7 separate regions of the Homo sapiens genome follow, and regions 1, 2, 3, 4, 5 and 6 are each reported to be linked to region 7. The links are microRNA targets in miRTarBase. Many come from high-throughput screens and were not tested one by one. Region 7 holds a microRNA gene; each other region holds the end of a gene's coding sequence. Distances are between the middles of the regions.
What was found. The annotated mature microRNA hsa-miR-4649-5p reads UGGGCGAGGGGUGGGCUCUCAGAG and lies in region 7 at 2,509-2,532, opposite strand. An mRNA with a match to its seed (bases 2 to 7 or 8) in the 3' UTR can be bound and repressed. Matches are read on the target gene's strand: a 7mer-m8 pairs with bases 2 to 8, a 7mer-A1 pairs with bases 2 to 7 and ends in A, and an 8mer does both.

Region 1 (4,000 bases), not on the chromosome of region 7:
TAGAGAACGTTAGGGTAGGAATCTATGTTTCCAGCTATCCTCCTGCCTCCCTTTATTTCTTTATTCAATTTTCTCTCTAGGCCTTTGTGCTTTTCCAAGGGTCATGCCTTGGCATTTGCTCACTGTACCTGATAAGGAAAGTGGCCTTGTAGCAAAATTTGACTTGAATTTTGACAGTCTCAATTATGAAACTCTCAGCCCCTGGAGACAAGACTATTTGTATCACCAGTGAGAGTTACTAGTCATTTTATATCCATTAACTCACAAGGGATGTACAGTGTATTTTATAGATAAAATTGAAGCTCAAAAGAGTGCAGTAACTTGGCCAGGTCTACATATTTAGGTAAATGGTAGCACCAGGATTCGGGCCTGCTGTTTTCTGATTCCAAGGCTAGCATTCCATTCTGCCTCTGCATTTTGTGTACCACTGGGGCACCAACTGATGCCTTCTGGAGTGTTTGATATCCTGGGGGCCATGTGTCTGATTTTCCCAAATGAAGAAAGAAAGGAACAGAAAAAGCCCCAGGATTGTATTTCCTCTTAACCTTTGCCTTGCTATTTGTGTCTAGATATATAGTCAACATGTGGCACTGTGCAGAATGGAGGGACTGCCGTACCCCACCATGTCAGAGACCATGGCCGTGTGTTCTCACCTGGGCTCCTGTCGCCTCCTGCTTGTGGAGCCCAGCAGGAACGATCTGCTCCTTCGGGTGCGGCTCAACGTCAGCCAGGATGATGTGCTGTATGCGCTGAAAGACGAGTAAAGGGGCTTCACAAGTTAAAAGACTGGGGTCTTGCTGGGTTTTGTTTTTTGAGACAGGGTCTTGCTCTGTCGCCCAGGCTGGAGTGCAGTGGCACGATCATGGCTCACTGCAGCCTTGACTTCTCAGGCTTAGGTGACCCCCCAACCTCATCCTCCCAGGTGGCTGAAACTACAGGCACATGCCACCATGCCCAGCTGATTTTTTGTAGAGACAGGGCTTCACCATGTTGCCAAGCTAGTCTACAAAGCATCTGATTTTGGAAGTACATGGAATTGTTGTAACAAAGTATATTGAATGGAAATGGCTCTCATGTATTTTGGAATTTTCCATTAAATAATTTGCTTTTTCCTGAGTGTTTGTGAAGTTATTACATTATAATCATTACAAACATCTGATTATGAAACCAAACTGTCCTTCCTACAATAGTCCTTCCATGTGACTTTTATTTCTGTTACTAGGCCTGCCATTTATTTAATGCTAACATATATAAAATATAAGTACACGATTTACTTGTATCTATATAAAATAGTTCTGGGAGAGTATGCAAAAAACTGGTTACACTGATTACCTCTGGAAAGAATCAGATGGAAAGAATCAGATGGCCAGGGTTAGGGGTTAGAGGAGGACTTTTCACTGTATGTCATTATCTGTCTTAAGTTTCAAATAATATAAATAAAATTTAGGCCAGGGGCGGTGGCTCACACCTGTAATCCCAGCACTTTGGGAGGCCGAGGCAGGTGGATCAGGAGATCGAGACCATCCTGGCTAACACGGTGAAACCCTGTCTCTACTAAAAATACAAAAAAATTAGCCAGTTGTGGTGGCGGGCGCCTGTAGTCCAGCTACTCGGGAGGCTGAGGCAGGAGAGTGGCATGAACCCGGGAGGCGGAGCTTGCAGTGAGCTGAGATCGCGCCACTGCACTCCAGCCTGAGCGACAGAGTGAAACTCCGTCTCAAAAATAAATAAATAAATAAATAAATAAAATATAGTTTATAAAAAAGGAACTACTGGAAATAATATAAATCATAAGTAATCTCTAGCCACAAATAGCTAGAAAGTGTAATTTTTACAAAGGTACCATTTACCATAAAAACAAAACAAACCTTTAAATACAAAAGATTTATATGTCACAGAAAATATAAGGTACTTAGAAATAAATTGATTTAAATATTTATTTATTTATTTATTTTTTCCCTCTGTCACCAAGGCTGGAATGCAGTAATGGATCATAGCTCACTCCAGCCTTAACCTCCTGGGTTCAAGTAATCCTGCCTCAGCCTCCTAAGTAGCTGGGATTCCAGGTGTGGGCCACCATGTCCGTCTCCTAGGAATAAGTCTAATAAAGAGATGCAAGTAATCTCTAGATAGAAATCAATTCCAATCAAAATCTTGGCAAGGTTTCTTGTATGACTTTGCAGTTAATTCTAATATTTATATGGAAACCAACAACAGGCAATGAACATCTAAAACCTCATGAAGTACTGAGGCTGGGCGTGGGTGGCTCATGCCGGTAATCCCAACACTTTGGGAGGCCAAGGCGGGTGGATCACCTGAGGTCAGGAGTTCGAGACCAGCCTGATCAATATGGTGAAATCTCGTTTCTACTAAAAATGCAAAAATTAGTCTGGCGTGGTGGTGTCACCTGTAGTCCCAGCTACTTGGGAGTCAGGAGAATTGCTTGAACCCACCCAGGAGGCAGAGGTTGCAGTGAGCTGAGATCACACCATTGCACTCCAGCCTGGGCGACAGAGCAAGACTCCGTCTGAAAAAAATAAATAAAACCTAATATGAGGTACTGAAAAAAAACAGCCCCACCCGTGTACTAGTCCTGTCAGAAATGCTTGTCCTAAATTTACTGATGAGAAAATTATCAGACAAATCTAAATTTAGGGAGAAACTCTGCAAAGCAGCTGTTCAACTCATTGAAAATACTAATATCACAAGAAAAAAAACACAAAACATGGAGGAACTATTCTACACCAAAGGAGAATAGAGACATGAGAGCTAAATGCACTATATAAACCTTGACTGGGTCCTGGATTTAGGAAATATAAACAATTATAAACATTATTAACTATGTATTAGACAGAAGTATTTTGTAAGTGTTAAATTCCCCGAGCGTGATAAATTTGTGATTATGTAGGAGAATGCTGTTCTTAGGAGATTCATAATGAAATATTTATAAGTGATGTATTATGTCTGCAACTCATTCTCAAATCATTTAGCAAAAATATGTATTTCTATATTCACATATGTATTTATAATTACATATAATGGATTGAGGATCAATATCAATATTTTTAAAACTGCAATGAAAAAGAAAAAATGAGCCAGGCACAGTGGTTCATACCTGTAATCCCAGCATTTTGGGAGGCCAAGGCAGGTAGATCACCTGAGGTCAGGAATTCGAGACCAGCTCGGCCAACATGGTGAAGCCCCATCTCTACTAAAAATACAAAAATTAGCCAGGGGTGATGGTGTGCACCTGTAATCTCAGCTACAGGGGTGCTGAGGCAAAAGAATTGCTTGAACCCAGGAGGCAGAGGTTGCAGTGAGCCAAGATTGTGCCACTGCATTCCAGCCTGGGCAACAGAGCAAGACTGTCTCAGAAAAAAAAAAGAAGGAAAAAGAAAAAAATGGGTAAATAACAAATAAGTCATCCAAAGAAGAAACACGAATGACCAAGAAAATGGAAACAGTAAAAGAGGCATGCAAACCAAAACCATTTCACATCTATTAGAAAACCTTTCTATGGTTACACAGAACAACTGGGACCCCAATACCCTGCTGATGGAGGTGGAATGACTTTTGAAGATTATTTGGTGAATCTTAGCCTAGGAAATGCAAGAAATTGTATGAGCCAGTGTATTAGTCTGTCCTCGCGCTATGAAGAAATACCTGAGACTGCGTAATTTATAAAGAAAAGAGGTTTAATTGACTCACAGTTCCACATGGCTGGGGAGCCCTCAGGAAACTTAAAATCATGGTGAAAGGCACCTCTTCACAGGGCAGCAGGAGAGAGAATGAGTGCCAGCAGGGGAAATGCCAGATGCTTATAAAACCATCAGATCTCGTGAGAACTCACTCCTATCACAAGAACAGCATGAAGGAAACCATGATTCAATTACCTCCCACAAGATGCCTCCCAGGACACATGGGGATTATGGGATTACTATTCAAGATGAGATTTGGGTGGGAACACAGAGCCAAACCATATCAGCCAGTGTGATGGTTA
Region 2 (4,075 bases), not on the chromosome of region 7:
TGTCTAAGTTTTCTTAGAGCTCTCAATCCTATAAGATGGACAGATGCTGAATTCGCTCAACAGTAGGGAGACAGACCTTTCCCAGCTCTGGGCATCTTAAACAGGCATGTCCTCTCTCCCTGCAGGCATCTTGGCCATCCTCATCCCCCGCCTGGACCTGGTCATCTCCCTGGTGGGCTCCGTGAGCAGCAGCGCCCTGGCCCTCATCATCCCACCGCTCCTGGAGGTCACCACCTTCTACTCAGAGGGCATGAGCCCCCTCACCATCTTTAAGGACGCCCTGATCAGCATCCTGGGCTTCGTGGGCTTTGTGGTGGGGACCTATGAGGCTCTCTATGAGCTGATCCAGCCAAGCAATGCTCCCATCTTCATCAATTCCACCTGTGCCTTCATATAGGGATCTGGGTTCGTCTCTGCAGCTGCCTACCCCTGCCCCATGTGTCCCCCGTTACCTGTCCTCAGAGCCTCAGGTATGGTCCAGGCTCTGAGGAAAGTCAGGGTTGCTGTGTGGGAACCCCTCTGCCTGGCACCTGGATACCCTGGGCCAGGTAACCTGAGGGCAGGGGAGAGGTGGGGTGGCAGACACGCAGAAGTGCTACTAGTGACAGGGCTGCCATCGCTCACCTGTACCTATTTACACCCAGAACTTTCCAGCTCCCCCTCATCATGCCTCCTCCTTCCTACCTGCCTCCCCTCTGCTGGTGCACCTCGCCCAACTCATTCTTACTGCACAGTTCACTTTATTTAACAATTTTCATGTCCCCCACCTCATGTTTTCACCTTTTCTGGGCCAGGCATAGATTAAGTAACTGGGAACGCCCCCTCTTTATAAAGCTGGGCTTCTTTCTCATCTCTCTCCCAAATGTTGTATCTCAGTATTCTTCCTATTCGAGTCTCCAGGGGGTGGCTGGACCTACCTGGTCATTTGAAACAGGCCCCCAAGCTGGAGTTTTTAATCTGGACTCTCTGGCTTGCTGTGACCCCTAAGGCAATGCTTCTCTTCCCTGGATTCCTTAGTGTGGGTCACAGTACTGTGTTCTTAGTTGCTTTAGCTCTTAAAACATACGAAGTGTTGCCTAAACTGAAAATATTTATCTTTTATTTAAAATCAGATTTTTGTTTTTAGACTGTCTTAGATCTGGGGCTATTACGAATCACTTCTTCTTCAGTAAACTTTGACTCAACTTCTCCTGCTGAAAAGAAGCTCGCTCCAGATGTCTGCATGGGTCCTCGGCACTCTTGGCTGAGGACTCAAAGGTTTTAATCAGGATCGTCTAAAAATGTACCTCGGTGAGGAGGCACAGATTTTGCCTCCTGTTGACCAGCCTGGTTTCATACCGAAAAGACATTGAAGGACTGCAGAAATGTATGGGTGCACCGGGCCGAGGGAAGGGTGGCTGAGTGAGAGGCGTATAAAATGGGGCTGTGTGCATGCAGGCCCATGTTTCAGCCTCAGCCCACGCCAGGTGAAAGGATCAGCAATGCTCTGTTGCCATCGTGCTGGGACGACACCAGCTCTATTGCCACCGATGAGTAGCTGAGGTCAGTGTGCACAGAGTTTGAAATTAAGTTAATAGACTTTACAGCAGCTGGTCTGACACTACGCGCAGTGCTCGGTTGTTTACAATCAGTGGGGAAAAGGGCAGAACCAGTGCCCGGCCCCACACTGCCTCTGTGGCCTGGACTTTGAAAGGAACCCACTGAACACTAATTATGAGCCCTGTCTTTCCCCCAGAATGCCTCCCTGGGTTTCACAAACAGCCTTGAGGTTGGCCCTCCTCAAGGTCAGCCTTCAGATTTGGGAGCAAACTTCAGAGAAGGCAGAGGAAGATACATTGCCTTGCTGTGGGCTGCCTCTTCTTTCCTCTTGGTGTGCGAAGTATTTCAGAAGGCCATTGATGAATTCCCCCTCTTTAGCTGTGTATTTGTGCACGTGTGTGTGTACGTGCGTGTGTGTGTGTGTTCCTGTGTAAGTAACAGACCAGACTCCTTTTCTCTTCTGTCCCGTCACCAGGCTCTTGCTTCACTGCAGATACAGTTCACTCTGAAAGCTGGTTGAAGGAGAGCAGCAAAAATGTATCAGGGGTTTTGCTTCTGTGTTTCGCCAAAGCTCATAAGGGCTGTGACCCACCCATATGGCCCCAGTTTTTTCTGTCTCTTCTGTTCCAAAGCCAGGAGAGCTGACTTCCAGGTGAAGGGATGGGAAAAGTGGACTCTCATTGTAGTGACTCCCAACCTACCTAATAATTTGTTAACTTAGGAATATGCTATCATTGTTGACTTGTTCTTCCTTAGGAGAAGGACGATTTTCACCCACCCTTTCTGTTCTATGGTGGACTCTTAACAGGTGCTATGTGACCAGGAATCTAGCCGGGAGTAGCAGAGGCCCTGTCTTCTGAAGTCTCAGGCTTAGAAGTTACCAAAGTGGGCTCAGAAACTGTCATCTCCTGGTTCCAAGTTCGGGCTCTGGCAGCCCAGCCGCTATCTTAGCTGTCTTTCCCAGCGGTGCTAAGAGTGGTCTCAGTGAGAAGGTAGATGCCAACTGGAGGGCCAGACCTGTGTCCTGCCCATGTCCTCCTTGGTGGACGTTTCTGTTTACTCAGAGCTGCTAGAGACCATCCTGCCCATCCGAGTTCTGAGATTGGGACTGTGATGTTGGGACCTGAGGACTGGATGGTAGAATACTGGGGTCCCCCAGCTCTTAGCAGGATGCAGGCTATTGCTTCCACACCCCTGGCCGTGAGAACGTGGTATGTAGGAGAGTTGGCTGTAGCTTTAGGATTTCTGGAAGCCAATTTGGCATGGCCTATTTGATCTCTGGCTTGTGCTCCTGCTACACTGACAGACTGATTGCGTGGCTCTTTCAGAAGACCCAGGAAGGGCAGCTCCAGCCAGAGGACCTTCCTGGCTATGCAGGTGCACAGCTCTTAGGCATCAAGCAAAGGGTCAGCCAGTCAGTAGTAGTGGGAGGAAGCCCTTCCTCCTCTTATGCAAGCAGCTCGCAGCCAGCCCAGAATCTCTTATGCAGCCCAAAGGGCTTCTTGAGGTAGAGAGCCCTCCCCAGTGTCTTCCCAGGATAAGTAGAAATATGATCACAGAGCAACGGAGCAAAGGCTTTCGGGAGTGTGAGGCTGCATCTGCTGGAGCAAAGGGAAACCGTGGGCTTTTCCGGCCAGATACTCTTGAGCTCTGTGACCCTGCTCCTGTCACCCCAATTTCTCCAAGCCAGAGGTAGCTTTCTCAGAGCCCCTTGGTGGTTCTGTCCTCCAAATGCTGCTGTTGGGAGCGGGCTTCCAGCTCTCAGTGGGCAGTGCACCTCCTCCTAAATGCAGGCACTTGCTAGGAAGAGTGTGAGCTGGCGTCTTCTGTTCACCCTGCCTAGCAGTTGTCACCATTCACAAGTGGCATTATTTATGTTGTGCTGCTGTCCAGCTGCTAAGATCCCTTCATCTGCACAAGCCCTGGCTAGATATGTGTGAATGTGTGGCATCATTTCACTTCAGCCGCCCAATTCCATCTCTCCTCTGCAGCCAGATTCACTGGCTGATGCTCACTGCTCACTGTCTATCCCCACGAAATTTAGTTTTATCAGTAGTCTTAAAGTGTTGATCTCAAACAAGTACATTAGAAAAATCATGTTTCTTCTCTCTCATCTTACTTTTTCTTCTCAGATTTCTCCCTTCCTAGAACATTCTCTCTGTTTAGCACTAATGTTCACCTCGTATTTTTTGGAAGTGCAAAAATCTCAATTTGTGTCTGTTTACAGCTCTCTCTCCTCACTGCTCACAGCAAGGGGTTCTGTATCAGTGGATTTCATTTTGTAGCTGCTGAGATGTTAAGGCAAGCCTCAGCATCTGCCCCTGCTGGGTGCACAATGCTGCTTCCTCGAAGAGAAGACACAGAGTCCAAGTGGCAGGACTTGAGGTTGGCTTCCACTCTGCCTTAGAAGTTAATTTTCCAAAGTACATTACAAATCTCTGAGGCCATTAGGGGAAAAGGAAGGGGTGTGGTTTGTCTTTGAAATTACGGTTAATACTTTTAGACAGTAAGTCCGGCTGGTTGCAGGGCTATTTGC
Region 3 (4,075 bases), not on the chromosome of region 7:
AGACCAGCCTGGCCAACATGGAGAAACCCCGTCTCTACTAAAAATAAAAAAAAAAAAACATTAGCTGGGTTTGGTGGCACACGCCTGTAGTCCCAGCTACTGGGGAGGCTGAGGCAGGAGAATCGCTTGAACCTGGGAGGCGGAGGCTGTGGTGAGCTGAGATCGTGCCATTGCACTCCAGCCTGGGCAACAAGAGTGAAACTCCGTCTCAAAAAAAAAAAAAAAAAAAAAAAGTGATACCAGTGCTTTCTGACTGAGCTCCTGTCTACCCTGAATCCAATAGATCCTAAGAGTTAGGCAGGTATATCGTCACCCCTGTCCAGCCTGAAGAAGTCACAGAAGTTGTATCTTCCTCCCTCTACAACCCTTAGGATTAAAGGTTCTCTTATAAAAGGGAGCGGGGAAATGTCAGAGGCATGTGAACCAGAGTGACTCCATCTTGAACAGGAGCTGGGTGAAATAAGGCTGAGACCTATGGGCTGCATTCCCAGGAGGTTAGGTATTCTAAGTCAAGGATAAGGCCGGGAACGGTGGCTCATGCCTGTATTCCCAGCACTTTGGGAGGCCAAGGTGGGTGGATCACCTGAGGTCAGGAGTTCGAGACCAGCCTGGCCAACATGGTGAAACCCTGTCTCTACTAAAAATACAAAAATTAGCCAAGTGTGGTGGCAGCGCCTGTAATCCCAGCTACTCGGGAGGCTGAGGCATAAGAATCGCTTGAACCCGGGAGGTGGAGGTTGCGGTCAGCCGAGATCGTGCCACTACAATCCAGCCTGGGTGACAGAGCAAGACTTCATCTCAAAAAAATAAAATTAAATTAAATTAAAAAAAATTAGTCCAGTTGTTACCCTTGGGGAATTTACAGTTTAGCTGGGACCTTGTGTTCCAGAGACTCAGAGAAAGGAAGAGCCCATTCTTTCTGGAAGGAGCATAAATCAGGGAGGGCTTCCTGGAGGAAGTGACATTTGAGGGACGCCTTGAAGGAAATTATTGATGATGAAGAGCAAGAGCATTGGAGTCAAAACTGGGATCAAATTCCAGCTGTCTGGTGTTCTTGCTGTGTGATCTTGGGTAAATGACCTCCCCTCCCAGGACCTCAGCTTATAAAATGAAGCATGCCACCCTATCTCCCTGGGCTGTTGTGAGAATGACCTTAAAGGAGAAACTATATGTGAAGTGCTGTTCTGGAGTAATGACCGCAGACACAGGTATCACTACTATGTTATTTATTTATTTATTTATTTAGCGGCAGGGTCCCGCTCCGTCACCTAGGCTAGAGTGCAGTGATGAGATCACGGCTCACTGCAGCCTCAACCTCCCAGGCTGAAGCAATCCTCCCACTTCAGTCTCCCTAGTAGCTGGCACTACAGGCATGTGCCACCAAACCAGGCTAATTTTCTTTTTTTTATTTTTGTAGAGATGGGGTCTTGCTCTGTTGCCCAGGCAGGTCTCCAGCTTCTGGGCTCAAGGGATCCTCCCGACTGGGCCTCCGAAAGTGCTGGGATCACAGGCGTGAGCCACCATGCCTGGCCTACCATGTAATTTAAAAGATCTGAGCAGGTAGAGTTCAAAAGTAAATTCTAGAACAGCATTTTGTAACAGAAATCTCTGTTATGATGGCAATGTTCTATAGCTGTGCTGTCGAATATGGCAGTCACCAGCCATATGTGGCTACTGAGCACTTGAACTATGGCCAGTGTGCCCGAGGAACTAAATTTGAAATGAAAATTTATTCTTTCTTTCTTTTTTTTTTTGAGATGGAGTCTCATTCTGACATCCAGGCTGGAGTGCAGCGGTGTGATCTAAGCTCACTGCAAACTCCACTTCCCGGGCTCAAGCAATCTACCTGCTTTAAGGAGGATTGAAGCAGAAGGATTCAAGCAACTCCCTCCTCAGTAGCTGGAACTACAGGCACGCCCCACCACGTCTGGCTAATTTTTGTATTTTTTGTAGAGATGGGGTCTTGCTATGTCGCCCAGGCTGGTCTCAAACTCCTGGGCTCATGCAATCCTCCCACCTCGGCCTCCCAAAGTGCTGAGATTATAGGCAGGAGCCACCAGGCCTGGCCAATTGATTCGAATTTGAATAGCCACAGATGGCTCTTGATTGTTGAACTGCACAACATAGATCAGAAGGACATTCCAGCCAGTGGCACAGCTTCAGGAAAGATGCAGAAGCGTGAATATAGCCCGAAGGGTGTGTATTAGCTTCCCACGGCTGCTATAACAAATCACCCCAAACATAGTGACTTAAAACAATACAAATGTATTTTCTTAAAGGTCTGCGGATCAGAGGTCTAAAAGTGTCAGGAGGTCTGTGTTCCTTCTGGGAGCTTCAGAGAGAATCTGTTTCCTTGTCTGTTTCAGCTTCTGGAAGCTGCCTGCATTTCTTGGCACCTCCTCACGTCACTATGACATCTGCTTCCGTTGTCACCTCCTGTGACTGACCCTGACCCTCCTGCCTCCCTCTTAAAAGGACCCTCGTGACTCCATTGAGCCCACCCAGACAATCCAGGATAACCACCCCTTCTCAAGATCCTTTACTTAATCTCACCTGCAAAGTCCCTTTTGCCATGGAAGGTCACCTCTTCACAGGTTCAGGGGATTAAGATGTGGACATCACCGGGGGTCATGATTCTGATTGCTACAGGGTCTGAGAAGCTAGAGAGTAAGTGTGTCCAGTGGTGGAGAGAAGCCTTGAATGCCGAGCTAAGGAGCCTGGACTTGGCCTTTCCTTCAAAATAGATGCATGACCTGTCAGCCTCTCACCACCTCAGCTCTGTTACCCTGATCCAAATCGCTATCACCTCCTGCTTGGACCATTACAGTAGCCTCCTCTCTGGGATCTTCACTGCCCCTACACCATACTCTCACCTCCACCAGCAACCAGAGGGATCCTATTAAAATCTTTTGGCCGGGTGCGGTGGCTCACGCCTGTAATCCCAGCACTTTGGGAGGCTGAGGCGGGTGGATCACCAGGTCAGGAGATCAAGACCATCCTGGCTAACAAGGTGAAACCCCTTCTCTACTAAAAATACAAAAATTAGCTGGGCATGGTGGCGGGCGCCTGTAGTCCCAGCTACTCAGGAGGCTGAGGCAGGAGAATGGCGTGAACTCAGGAGGCGGAGCTTGCAGTGAGCCGAGATTGTGCCACTGCACTCCAGCCTGGGCGACAGAGCGAGACTCCATCTCAAAAAAATAAATAAATAAATAGAATCTTTTATTTATTTATTTTTTGAGACGGAGTCTCGCTCTGTCGCCCAGGCTGGAGTGCAGGGGCTCAATCTTGGCTCACTGTCACCTCTGCCTCCCGGGTTCAAAACGATTCTTCTGCCTCAGCCTCCCAAGTAGCTGGGACTACAGGCATGCGCCACCATGCCCGGCTAATTTTTGTATTTTTAGTAGAGACAGGGTTTCACCATATTGGCTAGGCTGGTCTTGAAGTCCTGACCTCAAGTGATCTACCTGCCTCAGCCTCCCAAAGCCCTGGAATTACAGGCGTGAGCCACCGCAAATGGCCCTATATATCTTTGTTTATAGTCTGTCTTCCTCCACTAGAAGAATATCAGCTCCCTGAGGGCAGGATTTGTGTCTGTTTTGGTCACTGCTATATCTCTAGTGCCTAAAAAGGCCTTGCACATAGCAAGTGCATGATGGATATCTGTTGAATGAAGGAAGGAATAAAATGAAGACATCATTGAGCTCCTGGATCCAGCTATGCCTGAAGCCAGTCTTGTGAAATGAGATAAGAAGATACACACCCACAATGTCTCTCCAGCCTACACCTCCATCTCCGAGACCAGGTCATGGCTGGTGGATTTCTTGCTGTCCACACTTTCGTCCTGGCCCTGGGACTCCCTCAGGGCCCAGTGACAGGCAGCTGGCAGTGACCGGCGGAGTTGAGCCCTCCCAAAATACAGGAAGAGCATGGGATTGAGGCAGCTGTGAGCGAGGGCAAGGCCCACGATGAGGGGTTCAGCCCGCAGGGCCCTGGCCAGGAGTGCGGAGTTCGGGGCCGCCACAGTGAGCACCAGCCCCAGCAGGTGGTAGGGTGCCCAGCAGACAAAAAACCCCAC
Region 4 (4,075 bases), 110 Mb from region 7:
GCCGCCGGGTGGGGACCGCAGCACCGGGGGCGGCGGGGGCGATGGGGGCGGTGGGGGCGGCGGCGCGGAGGCGGGGACGGGGGCAGGCGGCGGCTGTGGCAGCTGCTGCCCTGGCGGGCTGCGGCGGAGCCTCCTCCTGCACGGCGCCCGCAGCAAGCCCTACTCGTGCCCCGAGTGCGGCAAGAGCTTCGGCGTGCGCAAGAGCCTCATCATCCACCACCGCAGCCACACCAAGGAGCGGCCCTACGAGTGCGCTGAGTGCGAGAAGAGCTTCAACTGCCACTCGGGCCTCATCCGCCACCAGATGACGCACCGCGGCGAGCGGCCCTACAAGTGCTCGGAGTGCGAGAAGACCTACAGCCGTAAGGAGCACCTGCAGAACCACCAGCGGCTGCACACGGGCGAGCGGCCTTTCCAATGTGCACTGTGCGGCAAGAGCTTCATCCGCAAGCAGAACCTGCTCAAGCACCAGCGCATCCACACGGGCGAGCGCCCCTACACGTGCGGCGAGTGCGGCAAGAGCTTCCGCTACAAGGAGTCGCTCAAGGACCACCTGCGCGTGCACAGCGGCGGCCCGGGCCCCGGCGCCCCACGGCAGCTCCCGCCGCCTCCTGAGCGAGACTAGGGCTGGGCTGGGGGAGGGCAGGGCCGGACGGAGTGGATCGGGGGCGGCCTGAGCACCAACCACCTTGCCGGGTGTCCTCAGCCACCGTCTGGAAATCGGCAACAGGCATTGCACTCCGGTTGGGGGTCCCCCAGGGTGGGGCAGGGATCCCCCAGATCTGTCTGGTCTGAATGGACGCCCAGCTCATCTAGGGTGGACCCAGCTGCTGGGGAAGAGCCAGGGGGACCGCGAGGAGCCGAGCGTCCTCGGGCACCGCCCTCACACCTCCTCGAGTGCCCTGGGACCACTGGGCCACAGATGGTCATCAGGGGAAGCCACCAGGGAGTCCCGAAGCCCTTCTGAGATCAGGAAATCAGGTCCCAAGGTTAGGAGACGCCCTGAAAAAAAGCGAAGGCCGAGGGATGTGCTAAGGGTAACACCTTCATGATGACAACACTGCCTCGCGTTTCAATAGCGCTTTATACTTTTTTAAGTGTTTTCTATCCGTTATCCATTTCACCCTTGGCCTATCCCTCTCAGATAGGTGGGGTAGGATTTTCCTGGTGACCGAGTAAAGTGAGAGGCAGGTGAGACGGTTCACCCAATCACACGGGAAGGGGCGCGCGCTGCCCAACCGCGCTCTCCGCCTACCTCCGCTGCTCGGGAAGCTGCTGGCCTGGCCCTCCTGGTCTCTCTTCCTTTCCTGGTCTCTCTTCCTTTCCTTGCTCTCACCCACGGATAAAACCAGAAGCGACAGGAGGCCAGCTCCTGGGGTTCCTGGGAGCCGGGAACAGATTGGCTACGGAACGCCCCAGGTTGTACATTCAGAGGGCTCTTTCTCCATGGGAGCTCCTGGTGCCGCCTCGGCCCCAGCCTGTCCCCAGCCCCTCAATCTGGTGCAGCAGCATCTTGTCACTGCACAACAGTGGCCTGGTCCCCCACAGGCAGTTAGGGCCCCAGGTCAGACCTCACCATGATGATTTGTTCCAGTTCTCCCAGGGCAGAGGGGCGAGGGAGAGGCTTTTGCTGTGAGAGTAGCCGTCACGTGTCTCTTCCCAGCAGCGCCGGGCAAGTGGGTGCTAGAGTCTGAGCCTCAGGCTCTCCTGCCCTGGGCCTCCCAATTGGTGCTATCTGTTACTGCCCGTGCTCACGGACATGGATACAGACCCTGCTGTGCTCCACACCCTGCAGGCGCCTCGGGAAGCGCCCAAAGGATTCCCCTTCACGTTGGTGCACCTGCTCCATAGCTCCGGGCGCTGCGTCCCGAGGGGCCACAGTCTCCATTTCAGCGTCTTGCATGGCCTGGCACCGGGTGGGGTGGTATGCCCCAGGACCCTTGTTTGTGTCAAAAATGACTTTCCCTGCCCTTGCCGTGGGTCCGGCGTTCCTCCCAGCCGGGATCACAGTGGGCAGCCGGCACCCGGCACCACTTTGGCGAGCGTCCTGCTTCCGCCCTCGCCCTCATCTACGCTGCTCCGCTTTCCTCAGACCCCTTTTTGCCGTGCAAAGGGAATTCTTGACATTAAATAAAAGGTATCCAGATTGCAGACTGCATGTTCACAGAGCTGGGGGTTCTCCAGCTTGCCTACAGTAAAGCCTCAATGAACTGGAATCCAATTCAATGGGGTATTTTTTTTTCTTCATTCTGCTTTTTGAAGGAGACAAATCTTAAGAAAGCAAATTGAGATGAGAAATTAGACAGGGTTCAGTAGAGTTTTGTTAGAGCAGAAGGGGACCCTCCAGTGATCAGTTGCTGGGGGAGGGGGGTAGTGTGCCACTTTTAAAAAGCATATGCACGAAGTATTTTCCTAATCTAGATCATGGAAAGGTCAGAATGTCTTTTGGTTGCAGGAGTGTGAGGAGAGGGGAGACGTCACTTGAGACATGGGTTTAAAACACCTGGCCGGGCGCGGTGGCTCACACCTGTATTCCCAGCACTGGGAGGCCGAGGCGGACGGATCCCGAGGTCAGGAATTTGAGACCAGTCTGACGAAAATGGTGAAATCCCGTCTCTACCAAAAATACAAAAATCAGCCGGGCGTGGTGGCGGGTGTCTGTAATCCCAGCTACTCAGGAGGCTGAGACAGGAGAATCGCTTGAACCCAGGAGGTGGAGATTGCAGTGAGCGGAGATCGCACCACTGCACTCCAGCCAGGGCGACAGAGCGAGACCCCGACTCAAAAACAAAAAAACACCTGAGCACAAGGCTCAGTGTGATCCCTTTATTTTACCTTCAAGGGGCTGATTCCCAAGGAGACCTAGGGACTGAGCTAGTGAGAGCCAAGCCTCTCTGCTTTCCTGTATCCTAGGCTGGTGGATACCACTGCACCAAGTACCCCTCAGCTACACCATGAGTCGCCCCAAGCCCTGGCACAGGTTGCTGGAGCATCCCATAGTGAGCCTCATCCCCAGAGCTGATCGGGGATGGTGACACTCAGGATGTTAGCCTCTGCTGGCTCCCAGGCAGCGAAGATCCTCAGTGAAGACCCTGGAGTCCACATCCTGAAGCAGAACAGGGGTTTTGCTTTGGGGGTGGATTTTTATTTTCCTTCTGAGAAAATGTAGTTTATGTAGAGACAAAGTCTTGCTCTGCCATTCAGGCTGAGTGCAGTGGTGCAATCTTGGCTTACTGCAGCCTTGACCTCTGGAGCTGAAGCAATCCGGTTGGGCGTGGTGGCTCATTCATGTAACCCCAGCACTTTGGGAGGCTGAGGTGGGAGGATTGCTTGAGACCAGGAGTTTCAGACTGCCCTTCCAACATAGTGAGACCCCTGTCTCTAGAGTAAAGAAAAAAATTTTAAAAACAGAGACAGGCCAGGCATGGTGGCTCACACCTGTAATCCCAGCGCTTTGGGAGGCCAAGGTGGATGGATTGCCTGAGTTCAGGAGTTTGAGACCAGCCTGGGCAACATGGTGAAACCCCATCTGTACTGAAATACAAAAAATTACCCGGCCGTGATAGTGGGTGCCTGTAATCCCAGCTACTTGGGAGGCTGAGGCAGGAGAATCGCTTGAACCCGGGAGGCAAAGGTTGCAGTGAGCCGAAATGGCACCACTGCACTCCAGCCTGGGCGACAGAGCGGGACTCCTCAAAAAAAGAGAGAGATAGGATTTCACTCTGTTGTCCAGGCTGAAGTGCAATGATTCAATCATTGCTCATTGCAGCCACGAACTCCTGGGCTCAAGCAGTCTCTTGCCTCAGCCTCCCCAGTGGCTGGGACTATAGGCATGCATGCATCACCACACCTGGCTATTTTGTTTTTCTTTACTTTTTGTAGAGATAGGGTCTTGCTATGTTGCCCAGGCTGGGCTTGAACTCCTGAGCTCAAGCAACCCTCCCACCTCAGCCTCCCAAAGTGCTGAGATTACAGATGTGAACTGCTGCACCTGGCCTTTTATTTATTTATTTATTTATTTATTTATTTATTTATTTATTAATTAGATGGAATCTCACTCTGTTGCCCAGGCTGG
Region 5 (4,074 bases), not on the chromosome of region 7:
TTACCCACATCCTTCCCACTGTAGACGAAGGCCACTTTTGCACTGACTTACCTCTTGTCTCAGTCTCTCATACATGACAGACAGATGTTCCTCCATACTAGGATCTCCTGACGGGGTGGCAGGGGAAGGGTGGGCAGTTCCAGGGACTTGGAAAGGTATCCAAGCCCCAGGATAGGGGCAGGGAGGTCCCTCAAAAAGGCTTCTAAGCCCATCCAGGCAGCCGCTATGCAACTCAGGTCCTGGTCCCTCCTCCCCCTTTCCTGGAGGGAGAACCACCCATGCTGAGCTGAGGGCCTGGATCTGAGGGAGAGGTAGTGGGGGAACCTGGGGAAGACGCTGGGTGGGAAGGCGTGGGGGCAGGGGAGACCAGAATAGAGGAGAAGATGGGGAAGTGGTTGTCGTGGAGTGGGGCCAAAGGGGTGGGAATGGTAGAGTCCCTGGATAAAGCTGGTCCTAAGGAGAAAGAACAGAAGGGAGAAAGATAAGAATCCACTTGTCTAACACCCCTTGATCCCCTGGATGCTCAACAGGCTTCCAATACCTATTCCTCCTGACAGAATGGATGGAATTACTATAGGAAAAAAGGGATGGATTCATCTCCATCTCTACTGAAAACAGGAGGAAACCATTTTATTTTATTATTTATTTTGAGATGGAGTCTCGCTCTGTTGCCAGGCTGGAGTGCAGTAGCACGATCTCAGCTCACTGCAACCTCCGCCTCCCGGGTTCAAGTGATTTTCCTGCCTCAGCCTCCTGAGTAGCTGGGACTACAGGCGCGCGCCACCATGCCCAGCTAGTTTTTGTATTTTTAGTAGAGACAGGATTTCACCATGTTAGCCAGGATGGTTTTCATCTCTTGACCTCGTGATCCACCCGCCTCTGCCTCCTAAAGTGCTGGGATTACAGGCGTGGGCCACCGCGCCCAGCCGAGCAAACTGTTTTATGTGACATAAATACCGGCACCTCCCAAAACCTAGCAGACATTTTACTTTTTTTTCTTTTTTTGAGACGAAGTCTCACCGTCGCCCAGGCTGGAGTGCATTGGCGCGAACTCGGGTCACTGCAACCGCCGCCTCCTGGGTTCAAGCCATTCTCCTGCCTCAGCCTCCCGAGTAGCTGGGATTACAGGCACCCTTCACCACGCCCGGCTAATTTTTGTATTTTTAGTTACAGATGGGGTTTCACCATGTTGGCCAGGCTGTTCTCGAACTCCTGACCTCAGGTAATCCGCCCACCTCGGCCTCCCAAAGTGCTGGGATTACAGGCGTGAGCCACCGTGCCCGGCCCAGTGTTGGAATCTTAAAGAAATGTGGCCGGGCGCGGTGGCTCACGCCTGTAATCCCAGCACTTTGGGAAGCCGAGGCGGGCGGATCACGAGGTCTAGGAGTTCGAGACCAGCCTGGCCAATATGGTGACACCCCATCTCTACTAAAGATACAAAACAATTAGCCGGGTGTGGTGGCGGGAGCCTGTAGTCCCAGCTACTCGGGAGGCTGAGGAAGGAGAATTGCTTGAACCCAGGAGACGGAGATTGCAGTGAGCCGAGATGGTGCCAATGCACTTCAGCCTGGGTGACGGAGCAAGACTCCATTTCAAAAAAAAAAAAAAAAAGATTCCAACACTGGGGGCAGTTTCACCTCTCTTATCGCAAGAATCATGTAATACATACTTGATGAGTTAACGAATAACAGGTTTTATTGTACTGTGGATTAAATGCTGTGGCCTGTACATCTCCATGATTAAGTGTGCGAGGCAAATGTACAGAGAAAAAAGAATATCCAGCTGAAGCTAGGAATCTGAATTCTATCATGTAACTTTAGGCATTCTCATTCCCTATGCCTCCGCTTCCTACAAATGTCCTATAAATGAGAACAATAAAGCCTCACTGGGTTATGAGGCCTATATGAAATAATGAATGTAAACAAAACGTAGCGACCTAGAAAGCAGTACATAAATGGAAGCTATTATCATTTCGGGCCCCTCTAATGACAGACACAACCTCAGGAGACAGTTAAAGGCTGGCCTTCACTCTCCTGGGTTTACCGACGTTGAAACTGCAAGGGGAGGTCACCCAAAGTTAGGCCTCACCCGAGTCCCTCCGCTCCCAAGGAACCCCCCAGGGGATCGTCTCACTGCAGGGAAGGCGGGCGGACCGCTCGGGTACCTCGGTCCCCGATGGTGTCCTAGAGGCGCCGTCTCTGCTGGGGGCGTGGCCATCTTGCCAGCCCGGGCGCAGGGGCCCGAACCGGGTGCACACTGGCCGGCCTTCCTGCCAGGACCGCTCTCCGAGTGCAAGACGGGCGGGCTGCTGAGGGCGCCCCGCGGGTCTGGTCTGGGCCGGGGAACTCCGGGACGGCGCCGCAGCAGGGCTACGAATCTCTCGGCCCCTGCCCTTCAAATCACCTCTAGGCACAGGTAACCGCGGAGAGTCGGGCGCAACGCAGACGCGCCCCGCTGCCTGGCCTTGACCCCGCCTGACCGCCCTCAAACCTGGGAGGACCGACGTCCTTGCGCGACAGGCCCGGCAGCGCCTCCCTCCCGCTCCCGCGACCCCTAGCCTGTCCACGCGCTGCAGGGCACAGGTGGGAAGGGGCGGCGGGTGTCTCTGCGCCTGCGCGGAACCCAGCGCGCGCTCCGCCCCACGCACCGGCTTTGAGGAGGGTCTCTCCCCGCCCCCTCTCCTCCCTCCCTCTTCTCCTCCGCTCACCTGGGGTCGAGCCTGGTAGGCGCGCAGGCAAGGGCCGAGACGCCGGGCCGCACCCCGGCTGGGCTGGTACATGATCTTCCGGGAGTGGAGAAGGAGCCTCCTGAGTCCGACCTCCGGCCTCCTCACAGGGGTGAGCGCGCCCCAGAGCCGGCTTCGTGAAGGGGAAAGGAGGCCGGGGCGGGGGGGTAGGGGGGGAAGGGGCTGAGGGAGGGAAACGGAGATGTCCCGCGCTTGCGCACTGCAGGCTCGAGGGAAGCGGCTGAAGCGCTCTGTCGGCTGTAAGCGCGCCTGCGCCCGCGGGCTCGGAGACTGCCTGAGTGCGCTTGCGCAAGTTACAGCCTCCCCCGCCCCCCCAAGCGCTGTATTCACAGCTGAGGCCTTTGAGCAAAAAGCTGAGCAAAAACAGGGCTGAAGGCTGAATGGGTGCAACGACAGTGAGGGGTGAGGCGGCTGAAATAATGAGTCAAATTTTTCAACAGCTCTTGTGATAAAAATAAATACTTTTATTGGTCTGGTTAAAAGATACAAATGACTTGAATCTGATAAGCCTGCTGAATGAATGAATGAATGAATGTATCCATCTATTATGAGGGTTGGGCTTTGGCTCTTTCCTGTAGTGAGGGAGAAATAATACTTTGAAGATGTTTGACGGGGCTGCGGTCACCAAGGCCTGGTGCTGCGACGTTCCTGCAGGTTTCGAATGAACCTGGCGTTGAGTATGTCCCCACCCACTGTCCAGGACTGGGCTGGCGGGGCCGGGGCCTGTGGAGGAGCTGTGTGCATGGGCTTCTCCCCAGACCCATCCTGTGACAAGGCCTGCTCCTCACTGGCAGACCTGGTAGGTGGGGAGATGGAGAGTGGGTTATAGGAATACTAAAGAGGAAATTAAGATTACAGACTCTTCAAGGTCTCGGGCCAGGTTTTAATGTAGGACACATGATGGGTATGAAGCTGGAACCATTAGTGCTATGTCCAAATTTAAAACCTCTCAGAGAATCCGTATTCCAAAGGGAAGTACCAGAGTTGAACCTGTGGGGGAAAGGGGCTTGCAGGATGTAAGGTAGAAGGAATTGTGGGAGGAGCTGGTGTCCAGTTCATACAATAAGATTTAAGAGTAGGAAGTGACTGAGAATGATGTTAGGAAGGGAGTCAGATGGTGGTGGGAGGCTGTTAGGGGAGGGGTTTAGACCTCACCTATTCTTTGTTTCCTGTTCTCCCTGCTTGGAGTCTTGGTTGCCTGTGGAAATATCAGGCATGTGAATGGGAAGGCAGGAGTAGACAGTGAATGTGGCCTACTTGATTTGAGGGTAGGGAGGAGTGAATACTTACCTGTATTGGGGGATGAGGAATTCACCCCCCCATGGCGG
Region 6 (4,075 bases), not on the chromosome of region 7:
ATATTTTTAGAGGCTGCAACTTTCCATTTCTCAAAATGCGTCCTTCTTGGTGAGCATGGGGGCTGGGATGAGAACAGTGGGCCCCAAAGGCTTGTGTTGCTTGGACCAAGATCACGAATTCAGGACATTAAGCACCTCCCCTCCCCTGACTCCACCCACTGAGCCAGTGCCCCCAACACTGATGCCTCTCCTCTTGCCCCTTAGTCATCCAAGGAGGAAGCCGAGATGGCCTACAAAGACTTCCTGCTCCAGTCCAGCACCGTGGCCGCCGAGGCCCAGGACGGCCCCCAGGAAGCCTAGACGGTGTCGCCGCCTGCTCCCTGCACCCATGACAATCACCTTCAGAATCATGTCGATCCTGGGGCCCTCAGCTCCTGGGGACCCCACTCCCTGCTCTAACACCTGCCTAGGTTTTTCCTACTGTCCTCAGAGGCGTGCTGGTCCCCTCCTCAGTGACATCAAAGCCTGGCCTAATTGTTCCTATTGGGGATGAGGGTGGCATGAGGAGGTCCCACTTGCAACTTCTTTCTGTTGAGAGAACCTCAGGTACGGAGAAGAATAGAGGTCCTCATGGGTCCCTTGAAGGAAGAGGGACCAGGGTGGGAGAGCTGATTGCAGAAAGGAGAGACGTGCAGCGCCCCTCTGCACCCTTATCATGGGATGTCAACAGAATTTTTCCCTCCACTCCATCCCTCCCTCCCGTCCTTCCCCTCTTCTTCTTTCCTTCCATCAAAAGATGTATTTGAATTCATACTAGAATTCAGGTGCTTTGCTAGATGCTGTGACAGGTATGCCACCAACACTGCTCACAGCCTTTCTGAGGACACCAGTGAAAGAAGCCACAGCTCTTCTTGGCGTATTTATACTCACTGAGTCTTAACTTTTCACCAGGGGTGCTCACCTCTGCCCCTATTGGGAGAGGTCATAAAATGTCTCGAGTCCTAAGGCCTTAGGGGTCATGTATGATGAGCATACACACAGGTAATTATAAACCCACATTCTTACCATTTCACACATAAGAAAATTGAGGTTTGGAAGAGTGAAGCGTTTTTCTTTTTCTTTTTTTTTTTTGAGACGGAGTCTCTCACTGTCGCCCAGGCTGGAGTGCAGTGGCGCAATCTCGGCTCACTGCAACCTCCGCCTCCCAGGTTGACACCATTCTCCTGCCTCACCCTCCCAAGTAGCTGGGACTACAGGCGCCTGCCAGCACGCCTGGCTAATTTTTTGTATTTTTAGTAGAGACAGGGTTTCACCGTGTTAGCCAGGATGGTCTCGATCTCCTGACCTCGTGATCCGCCTGCCTCTGCCTCCCAAAGTGCTGGGATTACAGGCGTGAGCCACCGCGTCCGGCCTCTTTTTTTCTTTTCTTTTTTTTGAGACAAAGTCTCACTGTGTCACCCAGACTGGAATGCAGTGACACAATCTCGGCTCACTGAAACCTCTGCCTTCCAGGTTCAAGCTATTCTCATGCCTCAGCCTCTCAAGTAGCTGGGACTACAGATGTGGGCCACCATGTCTGGCTAATTTTTTTTTTTTTTTTTTTTTTTTGTAGAGACAGGGTTTCGCCATGTTGACGAGACTGGTCTCGAACTCCTGGCCTCAAGTGATCTGCCGCCTCAGCTTCTCAAAGTACTGGGATTATATAGGCATGAGCCACTGAGCCTGGCCCTGAAGCGTTTTTCTCAAAGGCCCTCAGTGAGATAAATTAGATTTGGCATCTCCTGTCCTGGGCCAGGGATCTCTCTACAAGAGCCCCTGCCCCTCTGTTGGAGGCACAGTTTTAGAATAAGGAGGAGGAGGGAGAAGAGAAAATGTAAAGGAGGGAGATCTTTCCCAGGCCGCACCATTTCTGTCACTCACATGGACCCAAGATAAAAGAATGGCCAAACCCTCACAACCCCTGATGTTTGAAGAGTTCCAAGTTGAAGGGAAACAAAGAAGTGTTTGATGGTGCCAGAGAGGGGCTGCTCTCCAGAAAGCTAAAATTTAATTTCTTTTTTCCTCTGAGTTCTGTACTTCAACCAGCCTACAAGCTGGCACTTGCTAACAAATCAGAAATATGACAATTAATGATTAAAGACTGTGATTGCCACCAACGAGGCTCAGACTGTATTTGCACCCAATACCTTCTGTCTCCCAGACAGCCTCTTCAGAGCTTTTCTTTTCTTTTTCTTTTCCTTTTTTTTTTTTAAGACAGGGCACTCTGTTGCCCAGGCTGGAGTGCAGTGGTGCAATCATGGCTCACTGCAGCCTCAACCTCCTGGTTTCAAGTGATCCTTCCACCTCAGCCTCCAGAGTAGCTTGGACTACAGGCGTCCACCACCACACTGGCTAACTTTTTGTATTTTTTTGTAGAGACAGAATTTCGCCATGTTGCCTATGCAGGTGTTGAATTCCTGGGCTCAACTGATCCTCCCACCTCTGCCTCCCAGAGTGCTGGGATCACAGATGTGAGCCACTGCATCTGGCTGCCTTTTGCTTTGGTCCCAATTTTAGGCACCCTGGGACCCCCTTGTCTGTTAAGATCATTCCTAGGTTCTGGTGCTGAACCATGTCATATCCTCTAAGGGCTGCCCAAGCTGTCTGTTGGCAGCTAGCCCCCCATCTCACCCCTAGACTCTTCCACAGGGCTTCTGTGTGTGGAGAGTTCTCTCTGCAAGAGAGTTCTCCCCAGTCTGCCATCCTGCCTGATGTGAACCTTTGCTTCCACCCAGGCCTTAAACATAATGCTGTGGATGCTATGAGCTTCCCAAGCCTACCTTTTCCTGGGACTCAGACTTCAGGCCTCCTTTGGTGTTCCCTCCAGCCCCACTAACTGCAGTACTCCAGTCTCAGTTCCCAGGCCCTGACCTGGGTCAGAGTCTTGGGCTTCTATCCAGCCAGAAGAGGGGGCATCAGAAATGTTTTTTTCTTTCTTCTGTGATGGGGATGCATACCTTCTGGAATGACAGCAAATCGTTCCAGGAGGATCAAAATGACAGGTGTGTCAGAAACTACCACTGTCTTACCCTTCCAGGAAGCTGTTCTCTGACTCACCAAAGGGCCATGTTTATGGTAGAGGATTAAGATGCAACTTCTGTACGCATTGCAATAACCAGCGAGCCAGTCCTGAACTCGTGTAGCCTATCCCAGCCCTTTGAAGCAAAGGTCAAGAAATGTCACTAAAGCCAAAAGCGATCTTATATTATTCCTAAGTGATATTGTCAGTAAGGCTCAAAGTCCATCTGCTCCCCGTGTAGCACAAGAAACCCTTTTAAATAAGGAAGCTAGTTCATAGGTTCCAGTGGACGTGAGTTTGGAGAGGATATGATTCAGCTTAGTATAGGGGAGTGACCATAAACTGCAGGATTGATGATGATAAACCAATTAGCAACGGTCAGTGGCCCCGAGCATTCAAGGAACTGTTTAAACATTTGATGACAAGGAAATCTTTCCCAAGTTCTTGAATTATCTTAATGTTTATTCTTTTTTAAAAGTCCAATATGTAAAGACAGGACTATTATTAAGGCCCAACAGGACTATTATGAAGGCCCAACTATTATTAATGCTCAACCACTGCTGGGCATTATTAAGGCCAAACAGTGGTTAGGAATTTTTTTTTTTTTTTTTTTTTTTTTTTTTTTTTTTTTTTTTTGGTAGAGACAGGGTCTTGTTTGTTGCCCAGGCTGGTCTGGAACTCCTGGCCTCAAGCAATCCTTCTGCCTCTGCCTCCCAAAGCATGGGGACGACAGGCGTGAGCCACTGCACCCAGCCAGGAACTTGTTTATAGCAATTGATTTTGTTTTGTAAAGCTAAAAAATAGATCTCTGATTTAGACTTTTCCAAAACTCAAGACAGAACATCTCTCCTAAGAACATTAAACAGCAGCGAGAGGAACTGACTGTGCTATGGTCTATGAAACCGGTCCCCCAGGCAGAGAAACAAGTAGAGTTTCCCACCCCATCCCTCCCAGCTTTCCTAAAATAATTATCTCTACTAAGGAGTCTGCGCAACAAAAATAAGAGATCATCTCAAAAAGGCTACATGTCTAAGTGGACAGTGGACATGCTGAGAGGCAAGCTGTGAGACTGAGACC
Region 7 (4,075 bases):
AAGATGGGGTAAAGGTGTGCACACTAGGTACCTGTCTTCACGCCGTGATTAATGCCACTCACAGAGATGGTGGCGTTGGCAATGGGGATGCCTTGCTCGTCCGTCACCACCCCCTTAATGCCGCGGTGCACCTAGGGAAGCAGGTGAGGGCTGCTGGTCCTCAGGAAGGTCCAATGTGGTCCGCTGCTCCCTCCCGCCCATCCAGGAGCCTGTGCAGCCTCCTCTCCCCAGGCATTGCCCTAGCCACCCCACCTGCTCCATGAAGGTGAGCAGCGCCTCCTTGTTGTTCTCCCACTCGCGGGGCAGCTCACTCTCATGAGGGAACTTGTCACAGCCCAGGTAGAAGGAGAGCTCCAGGCAGTTGGTATGCAGGTAACTGAAGTCATTGATAGCTGGCCGGGGACAGATACAGACCCAAAGTCAGCCCCTCTCCGGACCAGGCCCCGCCCACAGCCCCTCCCAGGCTGACTCACTCCCGGTCCGGGGGTTCCACTTGGCCCCGTTGACGATGCCCATGCCGCCGGTGTAGTCCTGGGCTTGGCAGCCTCCGCGGTAGGGCTCGGTCAAGGTGAGGTGTGCGGAGGCGAAGGAGATGGCAAGCCACCGGAAGATGGCGTGGTCTGGAGTCTCCTGGGCCTCGGAGACCTCGTCCTCATCCTCCCCCCGGGCTGCTGCCATGGCTGCGGCCAGCAGCTGCTCCTGGGTAGGCGTGCGGGCCATATCGTAGGGGTAGGATACTAGCCGCTCGCCGCCGTTCAGATTTGCTCCCAGCACGAAGGGGTTCTTCTCCATCCAGGCAATGATGGCCCGGACCTCCGTGGATACCTGGAGTGGCCAGCACGTGTGAGGCCAGGGCTGCAGCTCCGGCCACTATCCCCAACCTAGCCCGATCACCCTCCATGAAGCTTCACACCAGTACTCGCACGATCCCCTGTCCCCCAACCCCCAGAGCCTCAGCGTCTGGAGTTCAGGCACCGTCAGCCCCACCCCCAAGCCCAGAACACCAGGACCCCAGGGTCCAGCTGCTCCCTCCTGCCCTTTCAGCCAGGCTGTAGCCTCACCGTGGCATCTGGCGAAAGGTAGCGTTCAGGGATGGGCAAGTTATTGTTGGGGACCCGGTAGGGGACCCATTTCCTCTCCTCAGCTCCCCAGAGCACAGAGTTGAGATCCGGGAAATCTTCAAAGATGTCAAAGCCCTCCTCAGTCCACAGTCCCAGCGCCCAGTTCCCAAACTCTGAGCCCTGTGGGGAGCCAGCAGGGTAGGCATCGGCTACCCACACCCCCACAACCCCCAGCTGCCTGGACCCTGGCCAGCCTCACCCTTCAACCCACCATCTGCGCTGCCACCTCGTAGCCATCAGGGTTCAGTGAGGGCACCAGGTGGATGCGTGTGTCCTGCACCAGGCTGCGCACACGTGGGTTCCCATCGCGGTACTCTCGGCACAGGTACTGCATGAGCAGCAGCAACAGCTCTCGGCCCAGCACCTCGTTGCCATGGATCCCAGCAGTGTAGCGGAACTCGGGCTCCCCTGCAAGGGCGGGAGCCTCAGTGAGCACTCAGTCTCCCGAGGCCCAGGGCAGCTGAGGAAGGACCCAGACCCACCTCATACCCGAGGGTCTGGGGGACAGCTGGGGCTCCTAGGGCCCTGTAAGACAAGCCAGAATCCCCAGAGAGGCTCCGGAACAGGCGGGAGGCAGTGAGCTCTGCACATCAGCAGCAGAGGCCAGCTGCTGGCCCCCACAGACCCTCACCCAGTTCATGCTCCCCAGGGTTGTCTGAGATCTCCATGGCATAGATCTTGAGGCCTCGTGAGCTCTTGCCCAGGCTGTAAGTGCGGGTGATGGTGGGGCACTCCTCGTTCACCACCTTCATGAGCTGGGGCAGAGGGGGAGGACGTGGAATCAATCATGCAATCCGTCCCCCGCTGACCATGCCCCTTCCACTTCCAGGGCCTGCTCTATGGCGAGGGACGGGCATGACCCCTTCACGCAGCCCCCAGGTACTGGCCTCCTTCCTAAGGTGAGGGACAGCCAGCATCCCTGGAACCAGTAGGGACTGGGCCCAGTGACAGAAGCACCAGGCACACACTCCCGTCAGCCACAGACAGGTCCCACCCCCAGCCCCAGGATATATGCTCCCAACCTGGCGCATGTCCTTGTAGCTGTGGTGCCGGAAATCCAGGTCATCGGTGGCCACCACCTCATTCTGTGCGTAGTAGCTGTAGACAGCTGCAAGGGAGGCGGGGTTGTCTTTAGCTGGGTGCCGGCTGGCCCACCCTAGCACCCCACCTCCACTCAGAGCCCCTGCCAGCCCTCCACACTCACGGGCCACAGAGCACCCCAGCACCTCCAGGCGCATGCACAGGCTGCCATTCCAGGTGAGTGGGTAGATGCGGATGAAACGAGCCACCACCGGCTCTGGGAGCTCACTCAGCACGGGTGTGTCCTTGTCCACGTTCCCATGAAAGGTCTGGGGAGAGGCAGGCCTCAGAGCAGTACTGCCAGCCCCTCTGAGAGCCCACCCCTCGCCCAGACAATGGGAGCAGAGCCAAGAGCCTGGGCATGGTGCCCACCATTTCCTCATAGCCGTTGGTGTACATCACCCATGTCTGGCTGTCATTGCTGAAGCCCACGAAGAAGGTGGTCACAAAATCGTCACTGTGGAGTGGACAGTGGTCAGAGCAAGGGTCTTCCCCCTCCCAGGCCCTCAGGTGGCCTGAGCCTCCCTCTTCCGAGCCCCAAGAATTTAAGAGCTAGCAGGGTGGTGCTGCACGGCCCAGGTGTTGAGCCTGGGTCCTATGCCCGTCACATAGCCATGGGCAGGTGATCTGTCCCTAAACTCATGTGCTATCAGGACACAGGGGCTGACTGACCAGGCTGAGGAGTGGGGATGGGCAGGGTGAGTCCCTCACTGATCTTTTTGGCCTTCTTTGGCTGGGCCAAAGAAGGGCCCACTGGAATCTCCTTAATGGGACACAGAGCCATGCCTATGTAGCCACTCCCCTCTGCCAACTATCCATGAGCCTGGCCACGCACTGGATGCTGGAGTCTCTGCCCTGGGTGATGACGCCTGTGAACCGGGTAGTCCTCCTGGTGTCCACCTCTATCCACTGGGTCCTGGCATCGTCCTCGGCACACCACGCACCATCATAGTAGTCGTCCTCAGTGGCACCGGTCTGTCCAGGGGGCAGGGGAGGCTGAGCATGGGCGGAGGAGTCCCTTATCCCAGTTGGGAGATGGGCCCATCCCAATGCCCACCTGCATGTTGAGCCGGCCGCGCTGTGCCCCCAGGCCGTGGCGCAGCATGGAGGAGGCTCGGATCTGGTTGTCCTCAATACGGTGTGACTCCATCCCAATGGGGGGACACTCTGAGGACGCGTACCCCAGAATGGTGGCTCACTAGCTCCATCCTTCCCTCCACCAAACCCAGAACCAAGGAGCCCAGAGCCCACTCCCGGCACATCGGGGGCACAGTCAGAGGGCAGCTCTGGTCAGCTGGTGGCTCCCTGGTGCCCTGCACCAGCCCACCTGGAATCGACTCAAAGCCAGGCCAGGAGCTGTTTCCAATCCCAGCCTGTGCTTCCCCTCCCTGGGCCTCAGCTGCCCCATCTGGAGAACGGGCTGACCATGCCCAGCTCTCAGGGGACACACGTGAAATCACAGGTAGAGCTCCCCCAGGGCGCAGCCACAGATGTCATCCAGATGGGGACCGTCTGCACAATGGCCCTGCAGGGATACCTGTGAAGGTACCTGAGGTCCTCACTCCCCACCAAGGCCCCAGGTCCTCCCCCTACCACGCCCAGCCACTAGGGGCCCTGGGGAGCTGCCACCCTCCTGAAGCAGGCCAGCCTGGGGTCCAGGGCTGGGGCAGCCAAGCGAGGCTATCCTGGGCTCCCGGGGCCCCTCCCTTCTGGGTCCCAAGAATCTGAGTAGGAAAGGGTTCCGGGGACCTGGGTCCTGTTTGTGACATTGGGCCAGTCACTTGTCCCAGCACCCCCATCCTGTGGCCCCCACCCTCACCCCCTTGTGCCCCCCACTTACTGACTTTCTCCGTAGGCGTCCACTCCTCCTCCAA

Region 1: miRTarBase lists ORC1 as a target of hsa-miR-4649-5p. Seed matches in the 3' UTR shown: 7mer-A1 at 833-839.
Region 2: the mRNA of SLC36A1 is a reported target of hsa-miR-4649-5p. Seed matches in the 3' UTR shown: 8mer at 708-715.
Region 3: the mRNA of C5AR2 is a reported target of hsa-miR-4649-5p. Seed matches in the 3' UTR shown: 7mer-A1 at 3,166-3,172.
Region 4: miRTarBase lists ZNF282 as a target of hsa-miR-4649-5p. Seed matches in the 3' UTR shown: 7mer-m8 at 2,059-2,065.
Region 5: miRTarBase lists ATAT1 as a target of hsa-miR-4649-5p. The part of its 3' UTR that is shown has no 7-base or 8-base seed match.
Region 6: miRTarBase lists PIGR as a target of hsa-miR-4649-5p. Seed matches in the 3' UTR shown: 7mer-A1 at 1,091-1,097.

Annotation. Positions count from the first base shown.
Region 1 is chr1:52,369,945-52,373,944 of GRCh38, reverse strand. It overlaps ORC1 (origin recognition complex subunit 1), which reads left to right. Exons shown (of 17, transcript NM_004153.4): 17 at 570-1,116. The coding sequence ends at 764. Among named protein-coding and RNA genes, the nearest start is that of CC2D1B, 5.7 kb to the right of the region's middle.
Region 2 is chr5:151,487,858-151,491,932 of GRCh38, forward strand. It overlaps SLC36A1 (solute carrier family 36 member 1), which reads left to right. Exons shown (of 11, transcript NM_078483.4): 11 at 126-4,075. The coding sequence ends at 397. Among named protein-coding and RNA genes, the nearest start is that of MIR6499, 32 kb to the right of the region's middle. RefSeq lists an enhancer at 2,983-3,152.
Region 3 is chr19:47,341,517-47,345,591 of GRCh38, reverse strand. C5AR2 (complement C5a receptor 2) reads right to left here. Exons shown (of 2, transcript NM_001271749.2): 2 at 1-4,075. The coding sequence ends at 3,779. Among named protein-coding and RNA genes, the nearest start is that of DHX34, 5.8 kb to the left of the region's middle.
Region 4 is chr7:149,224,023-149,228,097 of GRCh38, forward strand. ZNF282 (zinc finger protein 282) reads left to right here. Exons shown (of 8, transcript NM_003575.4): 8 at 1-2,216. The coding sequence ends at 625. Among named protein-coding and RNA genes, the nearest start is that of ZNF212, 14 kb to the right of the region's middle. RefSeq lists a silencer at 2,585-2,792.
Region 5 is chr6:30,645,937-30,650,010 of GRCh38, reverse strand. It overlaps ATAT1 (alpha tubulin acetyltransferase 1), which reads right to left. Exons shown (of 13, transcript NM_001413067.1): 11 at 4,037-4,074; 12 at 3,902-3,944; 13 at 3,190-3,542. The coding sequence ends at 3,368. It overlaps C6orf136 (chromosome 6 open reading frame 136), which reads right to left and starts at 2,878. Exons shown (of 6, transcript NM_001161376.2): 1 at 2,165-2,878; 2 at 52-453. The coding sequence starts at 2,779.
Region 6 is chr1:206,926,543-206,930,617 of GRCh38, reverse strand. It overlaps PIGR (polymeric immunoglobulin receptor), which reads left to right. Exons shown (of 11, transcript NM_002644.4): 11 at 205-2,096. The coding sequence ends at 300. Among named protein-coding and RNA genes, the nearest start is that of FCMR, 6.6 kb to the right of the region's middle. RefSeq lists enhancers at 1-156, 1-280, 207-496, 967-1,016.
Region 7 is chr7:44,109,308-44,113,382 of GRCh38, reverse strand. It overlaps MIR4649 (microRNA 4649), which reads right to left and starts at 2,534; the gene lies at 2,471-2,534. It overlaps AEBP1 (AE binding protein 1), which reads right to left. Exons shown (of 21, transcript NM_001129.5): 9 at 4,042-4,075; 10 at 3,259-3,368; 11 at 3,037-3,176; 12 at 2,574-2,658; 13 at 2,326-2,470; 14 at 2,144-2,229; 15 at 1,753-1,876; 16 at 1,333-1,529; 17 at 1,062-1,241; 18 at 474-825; 19 at 253-392; 20 at 32-131.